Regions from separate parts of the Homo sapiens genome. Here regions 1 and 3 are each linked to region 2. The links come from fine-mapping of genetic effects on plasma protein levels. A gene starts in region 2. Each other region holds a variant in brackets. All regions are shown on one strand. Distances are from middle to middle.

Region 1 (2,998 bases), 11 kb after region 2:
GCACTTTGGGAGGCCGAGGCAGGCAGATCACTTGAGGTCAGGAGTTCAAGACCAGCCTGGCCAACATGGTGAAACCCCATCTCTACTAAAAAATATAAAAAATTAGCCAGGCTTCCTGGCATGCGCCTATCATCCCAGCTACTTGGGAGGCTGAGGCAGGAGAATTGCATGAACTCGGGAGGTGGAGGTTGTAGTGAGCTGAGATTTCGCTATTGCACTCCAGCCTGGGCGACAGAGTGAGACCCTGTCTCAAAAAGAAAAAAAAAAAAAAGGGTCAGGCGCCGTGGTGCACACCTGTAATCCCAGCACTTTGGGAGGCTGAAGCAGGAAGATTGCTTGAGCCCAGGAATTCAAGAACAGCGTGGGCAACATAGTGAGATCCCATCTCTACAAAAAAACACAAAAAATTAGCCGGGCATGGTGGTACGCACCTGTAGTCTCAGCTACTAGGGAGACTGAGGTGGGAGAATCACCTGAGCCTGGGAGGTGGAGGTTGCAGTGGGTTGAAATCATGTCACTGTACTCCAGCCTGGGTGACAGAATGAGACCCTGTCTCAAAAAAAAAAAAAAAAAAAAAATTCCCTTTCACACTTCCTTTACCTCCACTCCCCTTTCCAGAGGGGGCCATGGTTAACAGTGTGTGTGTTCACCTAGACCGTTTATGCATCTGTAGACACACACACAGTGAAGTGTGGTTTTCGTCGTTTTGGTGGGGAGGTTGGTTTCTGTAAATGGGAACATATAGGGAGCACTGTCTGCACCTTGCTTTGAGAGCCGGTCATGACAGTTCCCATTGAACTGCCTTGTTCTTTCAATAGCTGCAGAGCAGGTGGCGGCAAGGAGAGGCAGCTAAGAGCCCAGACTTGGGAGCCAGACTGCCTGGGTTTGAAACCCGGCTCTACCACTTACTAGGCATGTGACCCTTGTGCTGTGCCTCAGTTTCTTCATCTGTAAAGTGGGGGCAAGAACAGTCCCAACTTCATAAGATGGTTATACCACCATGCCTGGCCAGATGATTATAAAGTTTGAATGAGTTAATATTTGTAAAGCTCTTAGAACAGTGCCTGGCAGATACTAGGTGCTCCTAAATGTTGGTTTTTATTATGTGGCTGGGTGGCTCGGGGTTTTATTTAACAGCTCCCCTATTTACTAATAGACATTTAGATCATGTTCCATTTTCACTCTTACAAACAGTTCCACTTTGTGTGTGGCTCTGGGAACATGGGCCAGTGTCTCCCTAGGCCACATTCCTAGAAATAAGATTTCTTTTCTTTTTTTTTTTTTTTTGAGACAGAGTCTCGCTTTATCGCCAGGCTGGTGTGCAGTAGTGTGATCTCGGCTCACTGCAACCTCTGCCTCCCGGGTTCAAGTGATTCTCCTGCCTCAGCCTCTCGAGTAACTGGGACTATAGGCGCGCGGCACCACACCCAGCTAATTTTTGTATTTGTAGTAGAGATGGGGTTTCACCATGTTGGCCAGGATGGTCTCCATCTCTTGACTTCGTGATCCGCCCGCCTCGGCCTCCCAAAGTGCTGGGATTACAGGCGTGAGCCACTGAGCCCAGGCAGAAATAAGATTTCTAGATCAAAGGATATAAATACTGTTTTGATAGATGTTGCCGAACTAAGGCCTGGGCTTTGAAGCCCAGGATGGGAACAGCTGGGCTCGATGGGCAAAGGGTTTGAGTGAAGGCATTCATGGTGGGGAGTGGCTGGCATGGCCAGTGCTGGGAGTGATGTCCACCCTGTTCCTGGCCCTGCTGACTCCTCTCCTGACCCCTCCAGGGACCCAG[C/A]CTCCAACACTGCCCCGCTCCAGCCAGAGCAGCTCCAAGTGTTTGAGACTCTGGAAGAGATCACAGGTGGGCTCTGTCTCTGCATCCTGTTCTGCAGGGGCTGGGAGTCCTTGTCCTGTCCCCACTCCTTTAATCTCACCCTCTGCCTGCAGGTTACCTATACATCTCAGCATGGCCGGACAGCCTGCCTGACCTCAGCGTCTTCCAGAACCTGCAAGTAATCCGGGGACGAATTCTGCACAAGTGAGCACTGAGAAAGAGGGGGCCTGATGGGGAGGAGTCCCAGGGAGGAGTCCCTGTGGGAAGCTTTGGGCCTGAGGGAGTACTCCTGTAGCAGTAACCTTTCCATGAAAGTCTGCAGAGTGTGCTGGGGATGGAGGAAGATGAGAATAGCCTTTGCTGACCGGGAAGGGGTCCGTGGTAAGGTGCCCACCTTTCTCCCATAGTGGCGCCTACTCGCTGACCCTGCAAGGGCTGGGCATCAGCTGGCTGGGGCTGCGCTCACTGAGGGAACTGGGCAGTGGACTGGCCCTCATCCACCATAACACCCACCTCTGCTTCGTGCACACGGTGCCCTGGGACCAGCTCTTTCGGAACCCGCACCAAGCTCTGCTCCACACTGCCAACCGGCCAGAGGACGAGTGTGGTAAGACAGGGAGCCCAGTGTGCGCACTCCCCATCTGCCAGCACACAGCAGTGCCCAGGGGGCCCTGGCAGCAGCGTTCTTGGACTTGTGCAGACTGCCCGTCTCTGTGCACCCTTCTTGACTCAGCACAGCTCTGGCTGGCTTGGCCTCTTGGCATGGCTTCTCTAGCTGGGTCCTACCTGCCTTGGCATCCTTCCCTCCCCCTCTGTTTCTGAAATCTCAGAACTCTTCCTCTCCCTACATCGGCCCCACCTGTCCCCACCCCTCCAGCCCACAGCCATGCCCACAGCCAGTTCCCTGGTTCACTTGGACCTGGGGCCTCCCCTAAAAGTCCCCTGCGGTCCCTTCCTCCTCACTGCAGTGGGCGAGGGCCTGGCCTGCCACCAGCTGTGCGCCCGAGGGCACTGCTGGGGTCCAGGGCCCACCCAGTGTGTCAACTGCAGCCAGTTCCTTCGGGGCCAGGAGTGCGTGGAGGAATGCCGAGTACTGCAGGGGTATGAGGGGCGGAGGAGAGGGTGGCTGGAGGGGTGCATGGGGCTCCTCTCAGACCCCCTCACCAC
Region 2 (9,397 bases):
CAGGAAAGTTTAAGATAAAACCTGAGACTTAAAAGGGTGTTAAGAGTGGCAGCCTAGGGAATTTATCCCGGACTCCGGGGGAGGGGGCAGAGTCACCAGCCTCTGCATTTAGGGATTCTCCGAGGAAAAGTGTGAGAACGGCTGCAGGCAACCCAGGCGTCCCGGCGCTAGGAGGGACGCACCCAGGCCTGCGCGAAGAGAGGGAGAAAGTGAAGCTGGGAGTTGCCACTCCCAGACTTGTTGGAATGCAGTTGGAGGGGGCGAGCTGGGAGCGCGCTTGCTCCCAATCACAGGAGAAGGAGGAGGTGGAGGAGGAGGGCTGCTTGAGGAAGTATAAGAATGAAGTTGTGAAGCTGAGATTCCCCTCCATTGGGACCGGAGAAACCAGGGGAGCCCCCCGGGCAGCCGCGCGCCCCTTCCCACGGGGCCCTTTACTGCGCCGCGCGCCCGGCCCCCACCCCTCGCAGCACCCCGCGCCCCGCGCCCTCCCAGCCGGGTCCAGCCGGAGCCATGGGGCCGGAGCCGCAGTGAGCACCATGGAGCTGGCGGCCTTGTGCCGCTGGGGGCTCCTCCTCGCCCTCTTGCCCCCCGGAGCCGCGAGCACCCAAGGTGGGTCTGGTGTGGGGAGGGGACGGAGCAGCGGCGGGACCCTGCCCTGTGGATGCCCCGCCGAGGTCCCGCGGCCGGCGGGGCCAGAGGGGCCCGGACGAGCTCTCCTATCCCGAAGTTGTGGACAGTCGAGACGCTCAGGGCAGCCGGGCCCTGGGGCCCTCGGGCGGGAGGGGGCAGTTACACGGCAGCGGCTCGAGATGGCCCATCCAAGAGACTGGCGCTTTCCAGGCTCCGAGGGGCTCCGGGAACTTGTCAAAGAAGTTCTCTGAAATTGTTCAGAAAGTTTTCCCGCAAAGGGTGTATTGCGTAGAGCGCGCGCGCGCGTTTCCCCCCTTCTTGAGCCCCCTCAAGCTTTCTCAAAGCCTTTCCAGTTGGCAGCCTCCGCCTCCGGACTGGCCTGGGCTGGATTCCTTGGGGGGGTCCTCTGCCCTGCCCCTCCTCCAGCCCCTCCCCGCTCCCCTTCAGACGATTTTGGTTTGGTTGCTCCTGCTTCTGGCGGGGTCGGGTGTGTGTGTGTGTGGTGGAGTGGAGGGTGGCATAGCAACCTGTCCCAACCAGAGCCGGGGAGGAAAGGGTGGCCCGGAGGGTGGCCTCTTGCTGGGGTCTGGGTTGGGGGCGGGGGAGACGTTTGCTTTGAACAGATTCTTGGGGCCAGCTTAGGGACTGTGCTCTGTGACTTTTGGAGCGCGTGGACCATGGAGGGGTGGGGGTGGGTTTCTTGGGGTGTAAAGTGGGAGAGTTCCCAGAGAAGGAAGCTAAGAAATAAGGCCAGATGGGAGCCTAGGGAGGGCTGCGTTGTTCTGCTGCCTTTTCCTTGGTGCTGTGCGTGGGGAAGGGTGAGTGGGGGCAGTGTGTATCCTGACCCATCTGTCCACCTGTGTGCATTAATCATAAAAGCTAACATATAGCCTGGGCCAGGTATACTCTGCCAGGAACTGTTTGTGGTGTTTTGCATGCATTCTCCTTTAATCCTAGAACACCCCTATAGTGGAAGTTCTGCCAGCATTCTGGACTGAGTAGCAGTCCAGAGGTTGAGTAGCAGCTAGTAAGTGGTGGGGTCAAGATGGGACCCCAGGCAGTGCGACCCCCAACCATGCATTCGAAATCGCTATATGGATGAGTGCACCTGGAGCAATGAGGGACACTGCTCCCTGAGTCACTGGGCTGCAGGGGAGACAAAATGAAAGTGTTCTGGGAGTCGTGGGTGGTCTCCATAGGTCAGAGGGTCTGGGGAGGGAGTGGGTGTCATCGTGGCTGTGTGTTGCCCGAGGGGCCCTCTGTGAGTGAGTGCATGGCCGTGTTATCTCTGCAGGTCTACGCCAGGGTGTTCCTCAGTTGTGTGGTCTTTGTATTTGTGTGTCTGGGCTTTGTGTTGCCAAACAGCAGTCTCTCTGCTGACTTGGGGACACAGGCTGAACTCTGTCCTCTGCAGGAACTCCCTTAAGGTGCTGGGCCAGATCTGCCATAAACAGAGGGAGGTAGCCTTCTATGGCCACGCCTTCTTGCTGAGGAAGAAGGTTCCTCTCTTCCAGGGAGTACATCCTTGCCCTCCCTGTTTCCCAGACAAGCATCTTCACCTCTCATCTTCTGATGAGAAGGGTGAGGCCATACTGAGCTGTCAGGCTGAGCTGCTGCCCTTCCTCACCTTGGGCTGGGAGTTGATCAGGGAATGGCAGTTGCTGCAGAGCTGGATTTGAGGGCTGGGTTCTCTGGATGGGGCCTCCTCATGTCCTCACCCCTCAACCTGCACTATTGATTGTGTTGTGCAGGAGTTAGTTAAAAAGTCATTGCACAGCCTGGGCAACAAGGCAAAACTCTGTACAAAAAATACAAAAATTAGTTGGATGTGATTACACGTGCCTGTAGTCCCAGCTACTCCGGAGGCTGAGGCAGGAGGATCACCTGAGCCCAGGAAGTTGAGGCTTGCAGTGAGCTGTGATTGCAAATGCTCTCCAGCCTGGGTGACAGTGTGAGACTCCGTTTCAGAAAAAAAGTATACCACCCAGCTGCCTCCAGCACCCAGATTTTACCCAAGGGGTGAGGTCTGGGGCAGGAATGTGGGGGAAGGGGAGGCCTAGGGGGAGCCCCAGAGGGGTCAGGATTTTTCTGAAATCCTTTCTTAGAGGTATGGGTTTTACAAATTGCAGCAAATACATCCTTTTAATCTTGCAGAACTCCTTCATATTTTAATTCCAGTATGATTCTTCCAACAGCCTCCTCTCTTTACTATACTTGGGGAAAGTACTCATTTTATTTGTCAAGAAAAAAACAATTGAAAAGATAGGGATCAAATGTAAAAAGAAAAAATACGTGGCATTCCAAAGTCAAACACAAAGCATGTTTAATTTTCTCGTGGTTTGGGATTACCCATATTCCTGCTGTATGAACCTGTCTTGTCTTAACTTTTAAGAAATGTACGGTGTACTTCCTATATGCTAGGTTTTTATCCATGCTTTCATTTAATCTCTGTGACAGTCCTGTGAAGTAGGTGCACAGATGAGAAAATGGAAGTTCAGAGAAATGAAGCAACTTATCCAAGGCTCCCAGCTACCCAGTAATGTCCAGGGAATTTTTGGACTCTGAAGAGGAGGCATTAAGAGGTGGTTAGAGTCTTATTCCAGCCAACAATAATGGGTTGAACAAAGCCTTAGGGGCAGGCAGGTGGCCAGATGGGAGGAGAAGCGCTCCTCTTGTTCAGGCGAATGACCTTTCCATCCACTTCTCTAGGCTGTAGAAAGTGGAGCTGAGCTGGGGGCCCTGAGGTTCCCTCTTGACTTCAGAGTCCTCTCCCTTCCTGTCCAGCCAATGCCTGTCTTCCTTTTGGGCCCTACCAGCATGACAGGGGGCTGCGGGCAGGAGGGGACAGAGGCCACGTTGACACACAGGGCTGTGGGTGAGAGAGACAGCTGAAGTGTCAGCGTGAGGGGCCAGTGTGGGGCTGCGGCTGGGAGGGCTGGGGTGGGGCCCAGGGTAGTTGTGCCTGTCCTTGGGTGATGGAATGATCTGGAAAGAGATTCCTTCCCTGCCCTCCACCTGTGAGAAGCCCCTCTAGAGTGACATCTCCATCTTATGTTTGGCCACCCATCCTCCCCCTGGGAAGAGAGCCGAGGTGGGGTAAGGGATGTGTACTCTTTCAAGGAGTGGGAGAATTATTCTAGCGAATGTTTGTGTTGTCCCAGTTCTGTTTACAAAGCCTCGTCATGTTTACAGATGGCTGCGCAATTCATTACCTCATTTAACTCTCATGTACCTCCTCTGAGGGAGTAAGAGCTGTTACAGCCAAGTTTAGGTCAGTAAATATTCACCAAGTTGCAGGTACTGCAGGGCATAGAGATGAATCCGATTTAGCTTCTGCCCTGGAGGTCTGGGAACTTGCTCAAGATCACTCAGTGAGCAGCTGAGCTAGGGTTCTCAACTAAAGACCCTGGGCCCAGGCCCTGGTCTGATGTCAGGCCTGATACACCAGGTGTTTGTGGTCGGGGAATCCCAGTGTCACTTGAATGGGCTGTGACATTATGGGTCTGGGAGAGCTGAGCTTTGGGGACACAGGTCATTTTACTGTAGTATTCATGGAAACCAAGGGAAGTATTGGCTTTTCTGCTGTGAGCAAGAGGAGCAGCTGGGGCTGCAAGCTGGTGGGGAGGAGAGAACCCACCTGAGAGAAACCTCAGGACTGGGGTCAAGTCCTGACCACCAGAGTCCAGAGAGACATGAAGGACTGTGACCAGCTCTGAGCAGAGAGATGGATTCCATGACCTCAACTGGTCCCTTTTGTTCGGAGACTCGTGACTGGACTTCATTCATCCACTCATTCATTCATTCACTCAGCAGACACTTATCTAGCGCTCCCTGTGGCTGGTCCTGCCTCATACTGTCTTTGCTCTGGAGAATTGGAGGTTGGGGTTCCTGAGGGGCAGGGTCCTGGAGACAAGGACACTCCTGGGTAGAATTAGGACCTACCCCCCAGGAAATCAACGGGGACCAGGTGCCGTGGCTCACACCTGTAATCCCAGCACTTTGGGAGGCCGAGACGGGCGGATCACAAGGTCAGCAGTTCAGGACCAGCCTGGCCAACATGGTGAAACCCGCCTCAACTAAAAATACAAAAATTAGCCAGGTGTGGTGTCAGGCACCCGTAATCCCAGCTACTGAGGAGGCTGAGGCAGGAGAATTGCTTGAACCCGGGAGGCAGAGGTTGCAGTGAGCCGAGATTGCGCCACTGCACTCCAGCCTGGCGACAGGGCGAGACTCCATCTCAAAAAAAGAAAACCAATGGGACAGGGCAGATATGGGGACAATGGTAAGGAGATGGGAGAGTGGGAGGGAGGTGTCAGGAAGACCTTCTTGACTTCATGTAGGCTGGTGGGGGTGTTAGCCAGCAAGCCTCCAGTTCCCTGGGAACCGTTCTCAGGGTACCAATTTTACCACCTGTCTGCAAACACTTTAAGATTCTTAATCAGACTCAAATTGGCCACAAATCAGGTAAACAAACTCACTAGTGGGGTGGGGCTACCACCCGTTCTGACCCTCCAGCCCAACCCAGCCCAGCCACCCTGCCCTCCGTAGAGCCTGTGGTGTTTATCGGTGGCATTGGGAGAATTAGTGTGTATTTATGTTGGCGTGGGGTGTGGGGTGGATTTGTGTGTGTGCAGTTAGGCCTAGTGGAAGGAATGTGGGATCTGAAGGCAGGCCAGCCTGAGTTCCAGTCCTGCCTGTTGCTCACAAGCTTTATGAGGCGAGAGCTAACCCCTGCCAGCCTCAGTTGTCTTCTTTGCAAGATGGAGGTTGCAGCCCCAGTCTCTGGAGCATGTTATGCAGATCCACCGAGAGTGCCTGCCAGGCACACAGTAGGTGCTCAGCTCAGTTACTGTGGCGGCCCCCACTCCCCATTGTTGTTGTTTTCCTATTGCCTGGCGGCCACAGCTGGTATCCCTTGAAAAGGGCTACAGGGGGTGGAGTCGGACCCTGCCCCAGCCCTGTGGAGACCCTGGGCTTGGGCCAGGGCCTGGGGTCTGGGCCTGCAGACAGCTGTGTCTATAAAGCAGCTGAAGGGCTGAGGCCGGGGGAGGTCCTGGCAGCAGGGCGTTATTTTGGGCCTGGCCTGCCACCCCCAGCTCCTGTTTCTCTTGGGAGTCTGTTGGGGGAGGAAGTGTGGGGAAGAGGAGGGGGTGCAAGTGGGTGAGGCATGGAGTGGGGAGGCCTCCCTCAGGGACATGGACCCTTGAGTTCTATTTCTGTTCCTCCCTCCTGTTCCTCCCTCTTTGTCCTTATCTGCCTAGAGAGGTGGGAATAGAGGCCATTCTGAGTATCACTAGGAGACCACCAGTTTGTGGCCACTGGCCACTGGCCCAGGCAGGGAACCTGGGGGCTTGCCCTACCAGCCTCTCCCAGCAATCTGAAGGCAGGGGGTACCTCGTATTACCCCCTAGGATTTGACCTTAGGCTCCAACTTGCTGGGAGAGCAGTGCCTCTGGTGTCAGACCCCAAGCCAGCCCTTGTGCTGTCCCTGAATCTGCATGTAGCCTGTGGGAGGCGGAGCAGTGACCGGCAGGAATTCTGGGCAGCTCAGGCACCTGTGGGCCTGAGGGTGCCCTCTGCCCCCACCCTTCCGATCTCCTGGGCAAGACACGCCAGGTGATTCATCTCACCAGAGCAGAAAAACAAGTTCAACTGGGCACTTTAATCTCCCCTCACTGGCAGGCCTGGTGTGAGCTGCTACCCCGGCGCCCCTCACCAGGGGTGCTTTACCTCCTCTAGTATTCCTGACCTTAGTGGGCATTTCTGGTCTCAGGGATACCAGGCTGGGGTCCAAGTGGGCCAGGTGTGGCAGTTCAGCCCTATGCCCCATGGCTGATGGCTCGCGCTGGGCAGGTATGCAGGGCTGACGTAGTGCCTTTGTGGCAGCAGTTTCGTGGCACACATTCTGCCAGCTGGTTCTGGAGTCTTGCCCTGAGGAGGTGGCCAGGGTGAGGGTGCCAGCGCAGGAACCTTTGGCGCATGCTTCACCCTGGCCTGGGATCTGCAGCCTGGGTCCAGATGCCCACAACTGGAATCTGACGCTCCTTTTCTCTTCATGGGGGACTCCCAGAGGTCTCTGCAATGACCAGAGCCCCGGTTGTCCCATGCCTCAGCTGCAACTCCAGCTGACCCTCCTTCCCCACTCTCTGGGTGGCATTACGGGGGTGTGGATCCCTTGCCAAGAGGTTGGCATGTGGGTGTGCTGGAATGGCATAGGGAGAATGCACCGAGTTTGTTTGCTTGGGAGAGGGGCAGGGGGTATCCAGAAGATTCATGATTCGTCATCGCCTCTCTTGGGGGATTTTTACCCCTTTGCCCTGAGTTGTGCCTTTGGGACAAAGGAAGCCTTTCTTTGCCAGCCAACACCCTGTACTGGCGGGCGAGCTCCCCAGGGCTGGCACGCTGGGGCAGCCTCTGAATGCACAGGGTGGGCCTAGTCAGAAGAAGCCTTTCCCCTGAAATCCCTCTACTTCCCAAGCACGCAAGCTTTCTCCTGCTGTTAAACCTGCAGTGTGCAAGGGACATGGGCGGAGGGGTCCTTCAGTCAGGCTTCTCCCTGTCTGAGGTGGCATGACTTGGAGTGAGTTTGGATGGGGTGGCCAGGTCTGAGAAGGTCCCCCGCCAGTGTCCTCTGACCCATCTGCTCTCTCCTGCCAGTGTGCACCGGCACAGACATGAAGCTGCGGCTCCCTGCCAGTCCCGAGACCCACCTGGACATGCTCCGCCACCTCTACCAGGGCTGCCAGGTGGTGCAGGGAAACCTGGAACTCACCTACCTGCCCACCAATGCCAGCCTGTCCTTCCTGCAGGTGAGGCCCGTGGGCAACCCAGCCAGGCCCTGCCTCCAGCTGGGCTGAGCCCTCTGTTTACAGGTGGGTGGCAGAAGAAGGTGCCCTGCCCTTCTGTTTCCTCTCTTGTTGTGGTTTCTCAACCAGGAAGTCCTTTCTAACATCTAACCCCCATTCATTTTACTGCAGAATCAGTTGACTCTCTCTATAACGTGGCTGGCCGAGGTCATGTCTGGATGGGATGCGTCTGTGTTTCCGCTAAATCTTGTGCTCTCTTGCCAGCATGATCATGTCCCCTGTCCACCTGCTCCAGCCACTATCCCTCTCCCACTTACAGCAGAAGAAAGGGCTGGTGAGAAAGGTGGATTACAGGCCCACTTCTGCCACTGACGAGCCCTATGAATGTGGCCTACACCCCCTTAGCTTCACTGGGTCTCAGTTTCCCTATCTGTATATTGGGAGCAGTTGTGAAGCTCAGAAGAGAAATGTCTGTGAAAAGGTTATGAACAGGAGGGAGAGTGGAAACCAACCTGCTGGATCGTGTCCACAGACCCTGGAATGGGGCCACATGCTTGGTTTGTCAAATTGCAGACGCCGGCCGGGTGCGATGGCTCATGCCTGTAATCCCAGCACTTTGGGAGGCCGAGGCGGACAGATCACTTGAGGTCGGGAGTTCGAGACCAGCCTGACCAACATGGAGAAACCCCGTCTCTACTGAAAATACAAAATTAGCCAGGCATGGTGGCACATGCCTATAATCCCAGCTACTTGGGAAGGCTGAGGCAGGAGAATCACTTGAACCTGGGAGACGGAGGTTGTGGTGAGCCTAGATCGTGCCATTGTACTCCAGCCTGGGCAACAAGAGTGAAACTCCGTCTCAAAAAAAAAAAATTTGCAGACGCCATCCCATCCAGGCCTTTGCTTTCACTGATGAAGAAACTGAGATACAGAGAGGGCAGGGCACCTGTTCGGAGTTTATGAAATGCCCCCCCACCATTATCTTTCTTGATCATATAAGAATCTGGTGAGGCAAGGTAGGGCGTGATCTTTATCTCTATTTTATCGTTTTATTTAAGCGGGAACAGGACTGCTCAGTGGCTGGGGGCCTTGCCCAAGATCTCCAAGTACTGGGGAACCCCAGGGAGGCCCTGGGGGGTGGCAGTGTTCCTATTTCAGCCCCACTCTGCTTCCCCCTCCCAGGATATCCAGGAGGTGCAGGGCTACGTGCTCATCGCTCACAACCAAGTGAGGCAGGTCCCACTGCAGAGGCTGCGGATTGTGCGAGGCACCCAGCTCTTTGAGGACAACTATGCCCTGGCCGTGCTAGACAATGGAGACCCGCTGAACAATACCACCCCTGTCACAGGGGCCTCCCCAGGAGGCCTGCGGGAGCTGCAGCTTCGAAGCCTCACAGGTGGCCTTCACCGTCATTGAAACCTTCTCTTGGTTATTCAGAGCTGACCAGGGCCACTGCTAACCAGGGGGAGGCTTTGTGTGCATTAGAAATGGTGTCCCTTCTGGGCAGACGCAGGCAGAGCCCGGGAAGACGCCCTCAGAAGATTGGAAAAAGATTCCCCTTCTTCCTGGGAAGTTGTAGCTTGCGTCAGCACATATAATTCAATCGTGAGAATGCAGGCTGGGTTTTTGCCCCCACTTGGCTGAGTGAAGTGTACAGTGAACAACCTATGTAACTATTTGCTGGCCCTGGAGCCGACTCTGCCCCAGAGTCTGGGTGCCAGGTGCTTTGCCCGCATGGCCCATTTCAGTCACGCTGCAGTCCTGTCAGGAAAAAATCAGTGTTATTCTCATTCTACATATGAGAAAACTGAGGCTTGCAGATATAAGGGCCAAAAGTTACACAGCTAGTGAGTGATGGGGCTGAGTTTCAGACTCCACAGTCTCTTAACCACCAAGCAGCATGCCCAGAGTAGAGGTGAGAAGGAAGGAGAGAGCTGCGGTCCACATGAGCATCTGGACCT
Region 3 (12,403 bases), 130 kb after region 2:
AAAAGCTGCCTTCTGCCATGATTGTAAGTTTTCTGAGGCTTCCCCATCCATTTGGAAGTGTGAGTCAATTAAACCTCTTTTCTTTATAAATTGCCCAATCTTGGGTATTTCTTCATAGCAGCATGAGAACAGACTAATACACCAGGTCATGGTAAATGCCACGGTTAAGTGGTGTCTTAAGAATGTACATGTCAGATATGATATGGTAAAGTCAGTGTGGACACAAAGAAAATTAGAACAAGGCCCAGAAAGAAGTTTATCACATTCACAGGTCCCAGAGAGGTGGTTATTATGTGCTATGCAAGATCACAGGAGAAAGCACCAGTGTTGGTCAGGAGGCAGAAAAGAGGAATGAGGAAAAACCTTAGGTCAGAGCCTTAATTGGGGTTTCTGTGGAAAAGGCAAGGCAGGGCTGGGTAAACAGTTTAGGATTGGCTAGTTTTAATAATTCTGGTGGGCTCTAAAGCATAGAGATGGTCTCTGGTTGACTGGTATCTGGCCCTGGGATGACTTAGGGTAGGTGAAATATAGGCTTGGTGTGTGAGAATTGGGTAATGGCTTATGGCAAAAACCTGTGAGTACTTTCCAGCAATGACAACAATTGGATTTTGGACCAGAGAATTTCCATTTGAGGGGAAATTATTAGCCTGCTATTGAATATTAATTGAAATTGCTCTTATGATTGAAGGACAAAAAAATAATTTTAAAACCTAAAATATCAACGAAGTCTTGGGTGATGTCAGAGAAGTGTTCTAATGGGGAGAGCATTGCCCAGAAGAGTTCTATAATAACATAGAAATAGTTTATAGAGAATCATGGTACCTTAGGAATGAAAGGATGATATACTCAGGGGCAGGGATCCTCTTTTCCCCTACAATTGACTTTGGAACTATGTGAGGAGCTGCTGGATTCTATCATCACTTAGACAGTGCCCTATAAAGTAGTCTTTGACCAACAAAGAGATGCTTGATTTGTGGACGGTAGTTTTTTTGTTTGTTGAGACAGGGTCTCATTCTATCATCCAGCCTAGAGAGCAGTGACACGATCAGGGTTCACTACAGCCTCAACCTCCCAGGCTCAAACGATCCTACCACCTCAGTCCCCCAAGTAGCTGGGACCACAGGCATATGCCACCATGCCTAGCTAATTTTTAAATGTTTTGTAGAGACGAGGTCTCACTATATTGCCCAGGTTGGTCTTGAACTCCTGAGCTCAAGCAATCCTCCTGCCTTGGCCTCCCAAAGTGTTAGGATTACAGGCATAAGCCACCATGCCTGGCTGTGGATGGTAGTTTTAAGGTAAATGGACAACATCCTGTTTGGAACACCACAACTGTAATTAAAGAAGGTAAAAACAAATCAGCTTGGTGAGCTGAATAATCTGCTGTTTTCCTAGAAGTGATGGAAGAACTGAACAGTGATACATGCCCATATGTTTCAGTTTCTGATTCATGGGCAATGGCCAACAGCCTGGCCATGTGGTAAGGCAAGAGTGCAATGGAAACTTGGCATATTAAAGGGACTCTCATATGGGACAAAGCCCTGTGGAAATCACTATGGGAATTTGAGGGGTGCATTAAAGTAGGACATGTCAATGCTCGGTAAAAGACCCCCCTTCCAGATTTGGAAGCTGATCAGAACCAATTAGTAGGTATCACAGTGTGCGTGTTTGAGGTGAGCACGTGGGTCCATAAAATGAGTAGACAGGATGGGGGATGCTACAGCCACTGCAGAAGATGGGCTGAATTTGGACATATTTCCCTTGGACCTCCTGAGGCACAAAATAGCAACAAACTATTATGTCTGCCAATAAGAGAGACAGTTACTATAGGTGACTATGGGGAAGATTCCCCAGGGGGAAGACCCCACACATAGTTGGCAAGTGGATTGCATTGAAGAGCCAATGCTGGTAGTCCCAAGGGCTACAAATCATTTTTGTTTTTGTTCTTTTTTTGAGATGGAGTCTTACTGTGTCACCCAGGCTGGAGTGCAGTGGTGCAATCTTGGCTCACTGCAACTTCTGCCTCCCGAGTCCAAGCAATTCTCCTGCCTCAGCCTCCCCAGTAGCTGGGATTACACGTGAGTACCGCCACACCTGGCTAATTTTTGTATTTTTAGTAGAGATGGGGTTTAACCAGTTGGTCAGGCTGGTCTCGAACTCCCAACCTCAAATGATCTACCTGCCTCAGCCTCTCAAAGTGCTGGGATTACAGGTGTGAGTCACCACGGCCGGCCTGTTGTTGTTCTTTTGAGACAGGATCTCACTGTGTTGCCCAGGCTGGAGTGCAGTAGCAGGATCACAGCTCACTGCAGCCTCAACCTCCCAGGCTCAAGTGATCCTCCAGCCTTAGCCTCCTGAGTAGCTGGGACTACAGGCACACACCACCACACCTGGCTAATTTATTTGTATTATTATAATTTTTTTTTATAGAGATGAGGCCTCACCATGTTGCCCAGGCTGGGCCCAAATTCCTGGGCTCAAGAGATCCTCCTGCTTCAGCCTCTCAAAGTGCTGGGATTACAGGTGTGAGCCACTGCACCCAACCTATAAATTGTTTTTGACGGGGATAAACACAGACTCTGGAAGGGGCTTTGCTTACCTGGTTGTATACACAAATGGTCAGTACCACGAAAGAACCAGAACAGAAGATATTGCACCAATTTGAATGGCTGAGCCACATTTCTTTAGACTAAGGAGCACTCTACTTACAGCCCATAATGTCAAACAATGGGCAAAGAGCTATCCTCCTCAGAGTAGTAGTTTGATAGATATCTAAAATAGGGTAAGGTATAGGTGTGAAGGGTTGGTTTATGCATTTGCACAAGTGTGAGGTCACATTGAAATGAGCTAAGGGAGTGTTCCCACTAGGTAGATTCCTCTGTTTTTCTGGTGGATTAGGGAAGAGGAGGTGGGGGAGGATGCTGATATGACTATACAATTCTTGCCAAAGAGGAGGATATTGGTGTGATGACTATTCTTTTTTTCCTTCCCTACATTGTCACATCAGCTTTCTCTTTCCTACCAGATGCAGTGGTTGCAATACCAGCACTGTAATTACAAGTGCCAGAAACAGAGATGATTTCTAAAGCAAGAAAGTGTAACCGTAGCTTTAAACCTTTATGTCAGAACTCCTAAGGGCCTGATGAGGCAGGCTGTGCCTTTACCCCATCTGGCAAAATTGGGGTTAACATTGAATGCAGATGTATTGCCTAGTGGTAGAAATAGCCCACTAGTTCCGTACCTGTGTAACCCTATCCTGTATGTATGGGAGTTGACTGAGGGAGAGGTGCTTGCTAGACTAGTATTGCTGCCTACGATCTAGACCAGTGCAGTGGTCAAACCTAATATTCCTCCCAAAGGTGGGAAAGTTTGGGCATAAACAGTAAGAAGGAGGAAGAGTAGCTGAGAGTAAAGGAATGAATAAATGAGTTATGTAACAAGTCCTGTGAGTCATCCTAGCAAATTATTAAACATGTGGAGGGGAGTCCCCGATTTTGTAGCTAAGTCAGACAAAAGTGCAGGTAACCTGGGGACCTGGTACTTGAGACTGTTGTCTAAAGTAGGGAGAGTACTGTGCAGTACTGTGAGACTGAGCCTGTAACCTGTGCGGTCTACGCAAACATCAGGAATTACAATCAGAATTGAATTGAAGTGGGCTGGGTATGGTGGTTCATGCCTGTAATCCCAGGACTTTGGAAGGCTGAGTTTGGCAATCACTTGAGGTCAGGAGTTCCTGGCCAGCCTGGCCAACATGGTAAAACTCCGTCTCTATTAAAAAAAATACAAAAATTAGCCGGGCATGGTGGTGGGCGCCTGTAATCTCGGCTATTTGGGAGACTGAGGCAGGAGAATCACTAAAACATGGGAGGCGGAGGTTGCAGTGAGCCGAGATTGCGCCACTGCACTCTGGCCTGGGCGACAAAGTGAAACTCCGTCTCAAAAAAAAATAATAATAATAATTGAATTGAATTGTTGGACACCAAGTCATTGTCGGAAAACCAGAAAATTGGTTTGTTGGTGTCAGAAAACACCCCAGACAAACTTTCTACAATAAACATGTATTACTTTTATAATGGAAAATAGTCAAACATCATGTTTTAAGTGAAGTTAATATAATTGGAACACTGGATAAGCACCTTAAATTCTCAAAATTTGCTGATAACCTACAACTATGAAATGCAAATATTTGTGAAATTAACAAAACAGAATCACTCCTAACTAAACCTACAATTGCAAGTTTTCCTTGGAGAGCTGATTTCTTCTCTACACTAAGCCTAAGCAATATCTACAGGCATCAGTGTTTAGTCTGCACACTACGGCTCACCTCCTATGTCTTCATCTTCATTGGCTGGGCCTTCTCCACTGTCCACATTTTCCATTTCATGAGATTTGGTTAAACTGTAGTCATTCAAAACCGCTGCACTTTCTAAAAGATAAAAGGAATTTTAAGTATGTGGTTCAACGTTAAAGGATTTTTATAAATATATATTAAGTAGACCCCCATTTAACTTTCAGCTTCACACAATCCTTTAGTGACAGATAGTACCCCTTCACACATACCCAAAAGGGATGTATACATGAAAACTCTTGAGGTTTAGAAATAAGCCCAGGGTTCGCAGTGGCTCACGCCTGTAATCCCAGCACTTTGGGAGGCCGAGATGGGCAGATCACCTGAGGTCAGGAGTTCGAGACCAGCCTGGCCAACATGGTGAAACCCCATCTCTACTAAAAATACAAAAATTAGTTGGGCATGGCGGTGCATGCCTGTAATCCCAGCTACTCGGGAGGCT[G/A]AGGCAGGAGAATCACTTGAACTCGGGAGGTGGAGGTTGCAGTGAGCCAAGATAGCACCACTGCACTCCAGCCTGGGTGACAGAGTGAGACTTCGTCTCAAACAAAAAAAAAAGAGAAAAGAAATATGCCCAGGGTTCATGTACCCTCTGAATACACACAACTTTCTTGAATATTTCTTTCATCTGAGTTAAAGGGCACTCATGTTCCTTCTGGAGAAAAACTATCTCTCCATTGGTATATCTCACGATATTCAGTAGGATGCCATTGCTATTTATGACAAAGTAGTGACCAGAAATACTAAGCGTGCAAACACTGGCATAACCTAATTTGGGAAAGATGCTTTCCTAGGAGGAAGATCTGTAAGCTTTCTGTATGCCAAATTCTGTTTTTCCCTTCTGTTCACATTATAAATGTGATTCTGTGGAAAACATATTGGACCCCAAGTTTCTTTATTTGTTTGAACATTTACTGAATGTTGACAAGGCTACAGATATGAATAAGTCATTATGTCTTCAAGGAGCTCATACTTTGAGATATAGATAAGAGAAGCCCACAACTCTAACACATGGTAGGCTCAGACAAAGGATTAAATAAAGGAAATACAAAGTGTTATTAAAGTTCATAAGTGAAAGGGAGCAGACATAATAAAGACATGCTTAAACAAACAGCAAACTTGTTACAAAATAAGTTTAAGAGAAATGTATAATAAATATTGATAATACTAGAAGAAAAAGGAACAATGCAACTGGAATTATTTTCACATATAGGCATAGTAGCTTAACAAAAAGATGATAGCAGAAGAAATGAACTGAAAAGTTACCCTCTTTTTATCTAACTCCTTCCCAATCTTCAATAAAATATTTGCTGAGTTCCCATTAATATAAAAAATAGTCAAAGACACTGAATCCTGTGGCACTGAGGCTGGGCTGAAGTAGGGAGGTAACTAGAAGCTCTGCAGTGGCACTCCTTTCAGCTGAGCCATGACCAAACACACGCGGGAGCGAAAGAGAAACACGTTTCACAAAACCCATCACTAAGAGCCCCTGAAAATGTGGTCACCATGGACTCAGTGTTTGATTTATGAATATCTGAAGTTTCTAATTTCTGCATATTATGATGTATACTCTGTGAACTCTAAGATACCATTCTAAACAATGGTTCACTTTTCTCAAGCCTGAAATGACTAAAATATAGTGGACACCTAAACAATTAATATGAGATTTAGGTTCAGTTAAAAGATGTGATTGGCCGGGTGCGGTGGCTCATGCCTGTAATCCCAGCACTTTGGGAGGCCGAGGCGGGCGGATCACCTGAGGTTGGGAGTTCGAGACCAGCCTGACCAACGTGGTGAAACCCCGCCTCTACTAAAAATACACCAGGCATGGTGGTGCATGCCTGTAATCTCAGCTACTCAGGAGGCTGAGGCAGGAGAATGGCTTGAACCCGGGAGGCTAAGGTTGTGGTGAGCCGAGATCACACCATCGTACTTCAGCCTGGGCAACAAGAGCGAAATTCCGTCTCAAAAAAAAAAGAAAGAAAGAAAGATGTGATTACAAGTTACAGTAACACAAAAAGGCATTTCAGTGATAAATTAAATTTTGTAATATAATGTAAGCTTTGATTCACACAGTGAGTTAATCAATGGAGGACACAGAAGTTATTTTCAGGAAATAAATTATTGTAAATGTTTATAATTTATTCTAGAGCAGGGATCAGTAAACTATGGCCTGAGGTACAAGTCTGACCATAGCCTGCTTCTGTGTGGGCCCAAGAGGTAGGAATGGTTTTTACATTTTTTAAGGGTTGTAAGAAATACAAAAAATAATACGTGACAGAGACCATATGTGGCCTGCAAAGTCTAAATATTTACTATCTGGCCCTTTACAAAAAAGTTTGCAGACCACTGTTCTACAGTAAAAATCGCAAGTCATTCAAATACAAGCTACTATATTATTCAACAAAAACTGTCTTCAGAGCAATGAGCTGAAAAATCAAAAACAAACAAACAAACAAACAAACAGTGATCAACATTAGGTAGTGTATGTTTGGCCCTAAGATGCTAAAGAACTTACATGATCTAAATGGATGAGTTATTTTTTCATCAGCAACAGACAACCATATTTAAAAAAAAACACACACACATTTCCATAGCATTTTTACTGCAACCAGAATAAGCACATTCCTCTCTCTTTGGTATTTTTTTTAGTAAAGGTATATTTCCAGAGAGGAAAGACCTGATGTTACCTGCGGGCACAGACTGCTCCTGAGTGCTTTTCAGTTCCGCATTTGTTTGTATATCTGAAAAGAAAGAGGTTATAAATATTAGCTACTTAGGGTACATTTCTACAGGTTTGAGCATTCCAAATTTAATAAGGGATACCATTTCGGAAAACTTAACAGCAGAATTCCTCTTTCAGAGCAAGATTACTCTTTCTCTATATTCTCCCTAAAAGCCTTTCAAGGAGCATGAAAAAAAAATATTGATGCAGCAATGTTACTCTAAGAACTTTCTGCCAGAGATCTACTTACACCAAGAACAATATGCAAAAAGTGGGTTCCATTAGAAATAATTTCATATATTCTTTATTCTTCCCCAATATTTTATTATGAACACATAGAAAAAAAGAGTTCAAAGTGGTATATATATATATATGTACATATATATGTACATATATATAATGAAATACTATTCAGCAATTAAAAAGAATAAAATCATGTCATTTGCAGCAATATGGATGGAGCTGGAAGTCACTATGTTAAGTGAAATAAGTCAGGCACAGAAAGACAAATATCACATGTTCTCATTCATATATGACAGTAAACACGTTGATCTCATGGAGGTGGAAAGTAGAATGATAGACAGGGTGTGTGGGTGGGAATGGGGGATGAAGAGAGATTAGTTAATGGGTAAAACATATAGTTACATAGAAGGCATAAGCTCTAATGTTTGACAGCAGAGTAGGGTGACTATAGTTAACAACGACGTATTATATATTTCAAAATAGCTAGAAGAGAGGACTTGAATTGTTTCCAACACATAGAAATGATAAATACTCAAGGTGATAAACATTCCAAATTCCCTGACTTGATTATTATATATTCTATGCATGTAACAAAATATCACATGTGCCCCATAAATATGTAAAATATTATGTATCAATAAAAAATTTTAAAAAAAGAACTGCACAGTTGAACATCCATTACTCACCCTCTGGATTCTACAATTAACATTTTGCTATTTTTGCTTTCTCACATATGTTTCCACCCATTCATCTCTCAATCCATTCATCGATCCAGCTTTTTCAACGCATTGCAAAATAAGTTGCAGATATCAGTATACCTCAGTCCTAACATTTCAGCATGATTATTATTAACTAAAATTCAATATCTGTTTACAAGATTTTAAAAAGTAAATTTTACATACAGTGATATGCATGGATCTTAAGTGTACCATTCAATGAGTTTTTAAAAATGCATATCCTCATGTAATGCAAACCCCTATCAAGATACAGAACATTACCATCATCCCAGAAAAGCTCCCTCACATCTCTTCCTAGTCAATTCCCACCCACATACTCCAGAGACAACTACTGTTTTGACTTTTTCCACCATAGATTAGTTTAGCCTATTTTAGAACTTCATAAAAACAGAATCACACAGACATATGGTATAAATTATTTTGCCCGAGGCTTCTTTCACTCAACATAATGTTTTGAGATACATCCATTCTGTGGTGTTTATCAGTAGTTCATTCTTTTTTATTGCTAAGTAGTATTCCATATGAATATCCCAGTTTGTTTATCCATTCTCCTATTGATGGACACCTAGACTGTTTCCAGTTTGGGCTATTTATAAGTCAAACTACTATGATATTCCTTTTTAAAATAATAAACTTTTAAATTTTAGAGTAGTTTTAAATTTATGGAAAAATTGCAAAGATAGCACAGAGAGTTCCCATATACCCCACACCCAATTTCCCCTATTATTAACATCTTATATTAGTATGGTACATCAGTTATAATTAATGAATATATATTCATACATTATTACTATCTAAGTATTCAGATTTCCTTAGTTTTCATCTAATGTCCTTTTTCTGTTGCAGGATCCCTTCCAGGATCCCACATTACATTTAGTCATCTTGTCTCCTTAGGCTCCTCTTGGTTGGGACAGTTTCTCAGACTTTCCTTGTTTTGATGATCTTGACAGTTTTGAGTACTGGTCAGGTATTTTGTAGAATGTCCCTCAACTGGGATGTGTTTGTTTTTCTCATGATTAGACTGGAGCATGATCATCCTTGCACAAGTATTTCTGTGGTCATATGCTTTCATGTCTCTTGAGTCAATACCTAGGTGTGGAATTACTGGGTTATAGGGTAGGAGGCATATATCTAGTTTCAACACAGTGAAACTAGAACTTGTTCAAAAGTGCTTCTTCCCTCTACTTTGGGCTTAACTTACTCTGCTTCTGCCCTCTTAAGGTGAAATTTTAGTGACTGACTTTATTCCTTTCTTCTTTTCTAATTGTAAACATTTAAAGCTATAAGTTTTCCTGTAAGCATTGCTTTAGCTGCATCTCATAAATGCTGATGTTTTGATTATAATTCAGTTCTAATTTCCCTCGAGTCTTCTGTGATCCACTGGTTATTTATAAGTGTTTAATTTCCAGATATTTGGGGGAATTCGGGAATTCTTTAGCTAACTTGTTATTGAAGTCAAATTCCATTGCACTACAGTCAGAGAACACAGTCTGTGTGACTGTAGTCCTTTTAAAAGTATTAAGACTGGTGTTCTTGGTGAATGTGCCATGTGTAGTTGAGACATATGTATGTTCTGGTTTTTGTTGGTTTTCTTTGTTTGTTTTGTTTTGCTTTGCAGATCTGGCTGAGGCTTTATTTTGGAGGAAAAAAAAATGATGTAATTGTTTTGTAGCTGGAGGCATGGGCAAGGGGGGTATCCCAGGCAGTAAACTCCCCATGGGTGGGCTGAGGGTTAGGGCTGAGCCTCAGGTGGGTCTCCTGTTCCCTATACTCCCCTGCACAGTGGCCTCCTCCACAGGCTCTGGAGAAGCCATGGGAGGGGGTAGGCTGGGAGGGGCTGCTATGGCCTTTCACCTGGGCAGGACATCAGAGGACTGGGACACCAGCTTCCCATCGTGGTCTTGATCTTCTTCACAACCACAGCCCTAGAGAAGCAGGCACAGCCAAAGGAGCTGGAGCCCCCGCCAGAGCCAAAGCTGGATCCCAAGCCATAGCTGAGGCCAGGGCTTGTAAGGCCCCTGTAGGCTGAGCTCAGCCCACCTGAGTAGCCCCTGGTGGTCTTCATATGGATACTCATGCTCTGCATCCCAGACTTCAGCTGGCTCTCCTTGCCCTCCAGCAACTTCCTGTAGGTGGCGATCTCAATGTCCAGGGCCAGCTTGATGGTCATCAGCTCCTGGTACTTGAGCAGCTGACGCGCCACGTCCTGCTTGGCCCACTGTAGGGCGGCCTCCAGCTTGGACCCCCTGGCATTGGCATCCTTAATGGACCGCTCCCCACACATACACAATGGCGGCCTCCAGGGAAGCCCTCTGGCCTTTGAGGCCCTCTGTCTCAGACTGGAGCCGGCTGATGTTCCAGTTTATCTTGGAGATCTCCGTCTTTGTACAACGCAGGTCATCCTGTGCTTCCCAGGCAGGGTCTGCAGCTCCTCATACTTGATCTGGTGCATGCTGTCAGCCTTGGCCTGGCTGCGGTTGGCGATCTTCTCATACTGGGCCTCGACCTCAGCAATGATGCCGTCCGTGTCCAGGGAGCAGCTGTTATGCGTGGACAGCCCCACAGATGTGTCCAAGATCTGGGACTGGAGCTCCCAGATCTCCTCTTCATACAGCTGCCTGAGGAAGCTGATCTTGTAAGCTTGCCATCCAGGTAAGACTCCATCCAGCTCCACCCTATTCATGTATGCCTCATCCACATCCTTCTTGATGAGGACAATTTTATTCTCCATCTCTGTATGCTTACTGATCTCATCCTCGTACTTGTTCTTGAAGTCCTCCACCAGCCCCTGCATGTTGCCAAGATCTGCCTCCAGTTTCAGCTTCTCCTGGCCTAGAGTGTCCAGCTGCCACGGAGGTTTGTTGATGTAGCTCTTGGACATGTTGTCCATGCTGCTCCAAGCTGTCTTCTGCTGCCGCAGGAGGCTCTACTTGGTCTCCAGCATCTTGTTCTGCTGCTTCAGGAACCGCGATGAAGGGGGCAAACTTGTTGAGGGTCTTAATCTGCTCCTTCTCCTGAGTGCACACGGCCTGGATGTTGGGGTCCACCTCCAGCTTAAGGGGGCTCAGCAGGCTCTGGTTGACCATGATGGCTGTGATGCCTCCTATAACCACCAGCTCGGCCATAGCCTCCACCCAGACCCATGCTGGCACCCAGGACACCCTGGACACTGCTGCTGCTGCCCACTTGGGAGAAGCTCGAGGAACTGACGCAGGCACCAGGCCTACTCATGTTGGAGTGGCTGCTGAAGGTCCGGGGCCAGAGGTGGACACCCTGTAGAACTTCTGGGTCACCCTGATGGACATGGTGGAGGCGGGAGTGGAGGCAGGTGGGCAGAAACAGGGGGAGATTCAATAAGTAGTGGAGAAACTGCTTCTAGGTATTCTGCAGTTCTCAAGTGTACTGTTTAATAAATGTTAATTAAATCAAGGTAGTTGACAATGTCATTCAGATCTATGGATATACTAATTTTTGACTAGTTGTTTAGTTGCTGAAAAAGGAGTATTAAAATCTCCAAATATGACTGTTGATTTGTCTATTTCTCTCTGTTCTAGGGACTATAAAATATATCTTTAATTTTCCAGGCTTCTTAGAGTTAAAATTATACACTTCACATAAAATGTAAAAAGCTTGCAACCATTTAGGCCCATTTCCTACCCTCCAACCTTTATACTATAGTTGTCATATGTATCACATCTGCATATACTTTAAACCTTACCATACAATGCTAATTCTTGCTTTGAATAGTCATATTGTATTTTAAAGATTAAAATGAAAAAATAGTACTTTCTAATTACCCACATATTTAACATTTCTGGTGCCTTTTTTTTCTTTTTTTGAGATAGGGTCTCACTGTGTTGCCAGGCTGGAGTGCAGTGGCACAATCATGGTTCACTGCAGCCTCGACCTCCTGGGCTCAAGCAATCCTCCCACCTCAGCCTCCCAAGTAACTAGGACTACAGAAGCACCACCATGCCTGGCTAATTTAAAAAAAATTCTTTTGTAGGGACGGGGGTCTCACTGTGTTGCCCAGGTTGGTCTCAAACTCCTGGGCTCAAATGATCCTCCCACCTCAGCCTCCCAAAGTGTTAGGATTACAGGTGTGAGCCACTGTGCCTGGCCTGGTGCTTTTCATTTTTTCATAAAGATTTGAGTTCTGATCTGGTATCACGTCCCTACAGTCTAAAGAACTTTAGCATTTTTAATAGTGCAATTATCTGAGGGACTTTTCTTGTTTTCAATTATTTGCAAATGTCTTTACTTTGTCTTCAATCTTATAGGATATTTTTACTAGATATAGAATTCTGAGTTTACAGGGTTTTTTTCTTAAAACTTTTTTTTTTTTTTTAGAGA

Alleles and levels. Alleles are on the strand shown, and positions count from the first base shown. The strength of an association depends on the size of the effect and on how common the allele is.
For the plasma level of the protein whose gene starts at base 362 in region 2, allele C in region 1 goes with a higher level than allele A (weak association).
In carriers of allele A in region 3, the plasma level of the protein whose gene starts at base 362 in region 2 tends to be lower than with G alone (weak association).

The links. PIP is the chance, under the fine-mapping model, that this variant and not a neighbour inherited with it causes the effect. The UK Biobank Pharma Proteomics Project read protein levels with antibody pairs (Olink). The fine-mapping took linkage between variants from a reference panel, not from the people measured, so its PIPs are less certain.
Region 1: its variant is fine-mapped to the plasma level of the ERBB2 protein (UK Biobank, PIP above 0.99). The variant lies in the coding sequence of ERBB2. If it changes the protein, the assay may bind it differently, which can mimic a change of level.
Region 3: its variant is fine-mapped to the plasma level of the ERBB2 protein (UK Biobank, PIP above 0.99).

What each region holds. Positions count from the first base shown.
Region 1 is chr17:39,713,502-39,716,499 of GRCh38, forward strand. ERBB2 (erb-b2 receptor tyrosine kinase 2) reads left to right here. Exons shown (of 27, transcript NM_004448.4): 10 at 1,785-1,858; 11 at 1,945-2,035; 12 at 2,239-2,438; 13 at 2,800-2,932. Among named protein-coding and RNA genes, the nearest start is that of MIR4728, 11 kb to the right of the region's middle. The variant C/A (reference allele first, on the strand shown) is at 1,793.
Region 2 is chr17:39,699,703-39,709,099 of GRCh38, forward strand. ERBB2 (erb-b2 receptor tyrosine kinase 2) reads left to right here and starts at 362. Exons shown (of 27, transcript NM_004448.4): 1 at 362-609; 2 at 7,288-7,439; 3 at 8,619-8,832. The coding sequence starts at 537. RefSeq lists enhancers at 1,344-1,845, 1,846-2,345, 5,092-5,964.
Region 3 is chr17:39,825,063-39,837,465 of GRCh38, forward strand. IKZF3 (IKAROS family zinc finger 3) reads right to left here. Exons shown (of 8, transcript NM_012481.5): 2 at 7,036-7,089; 3 at 4,325-4,426. It also overlaps the pseudogene KRT8P34. Among named protein-coding and RNA genes, the nearest start is that of IKZF3, 33 kb to the right of the region's middle. RefSeq lists an enhancer at 10,334-10,833. The variant G/A (reference allele first, on the strand shown) is at 4,791.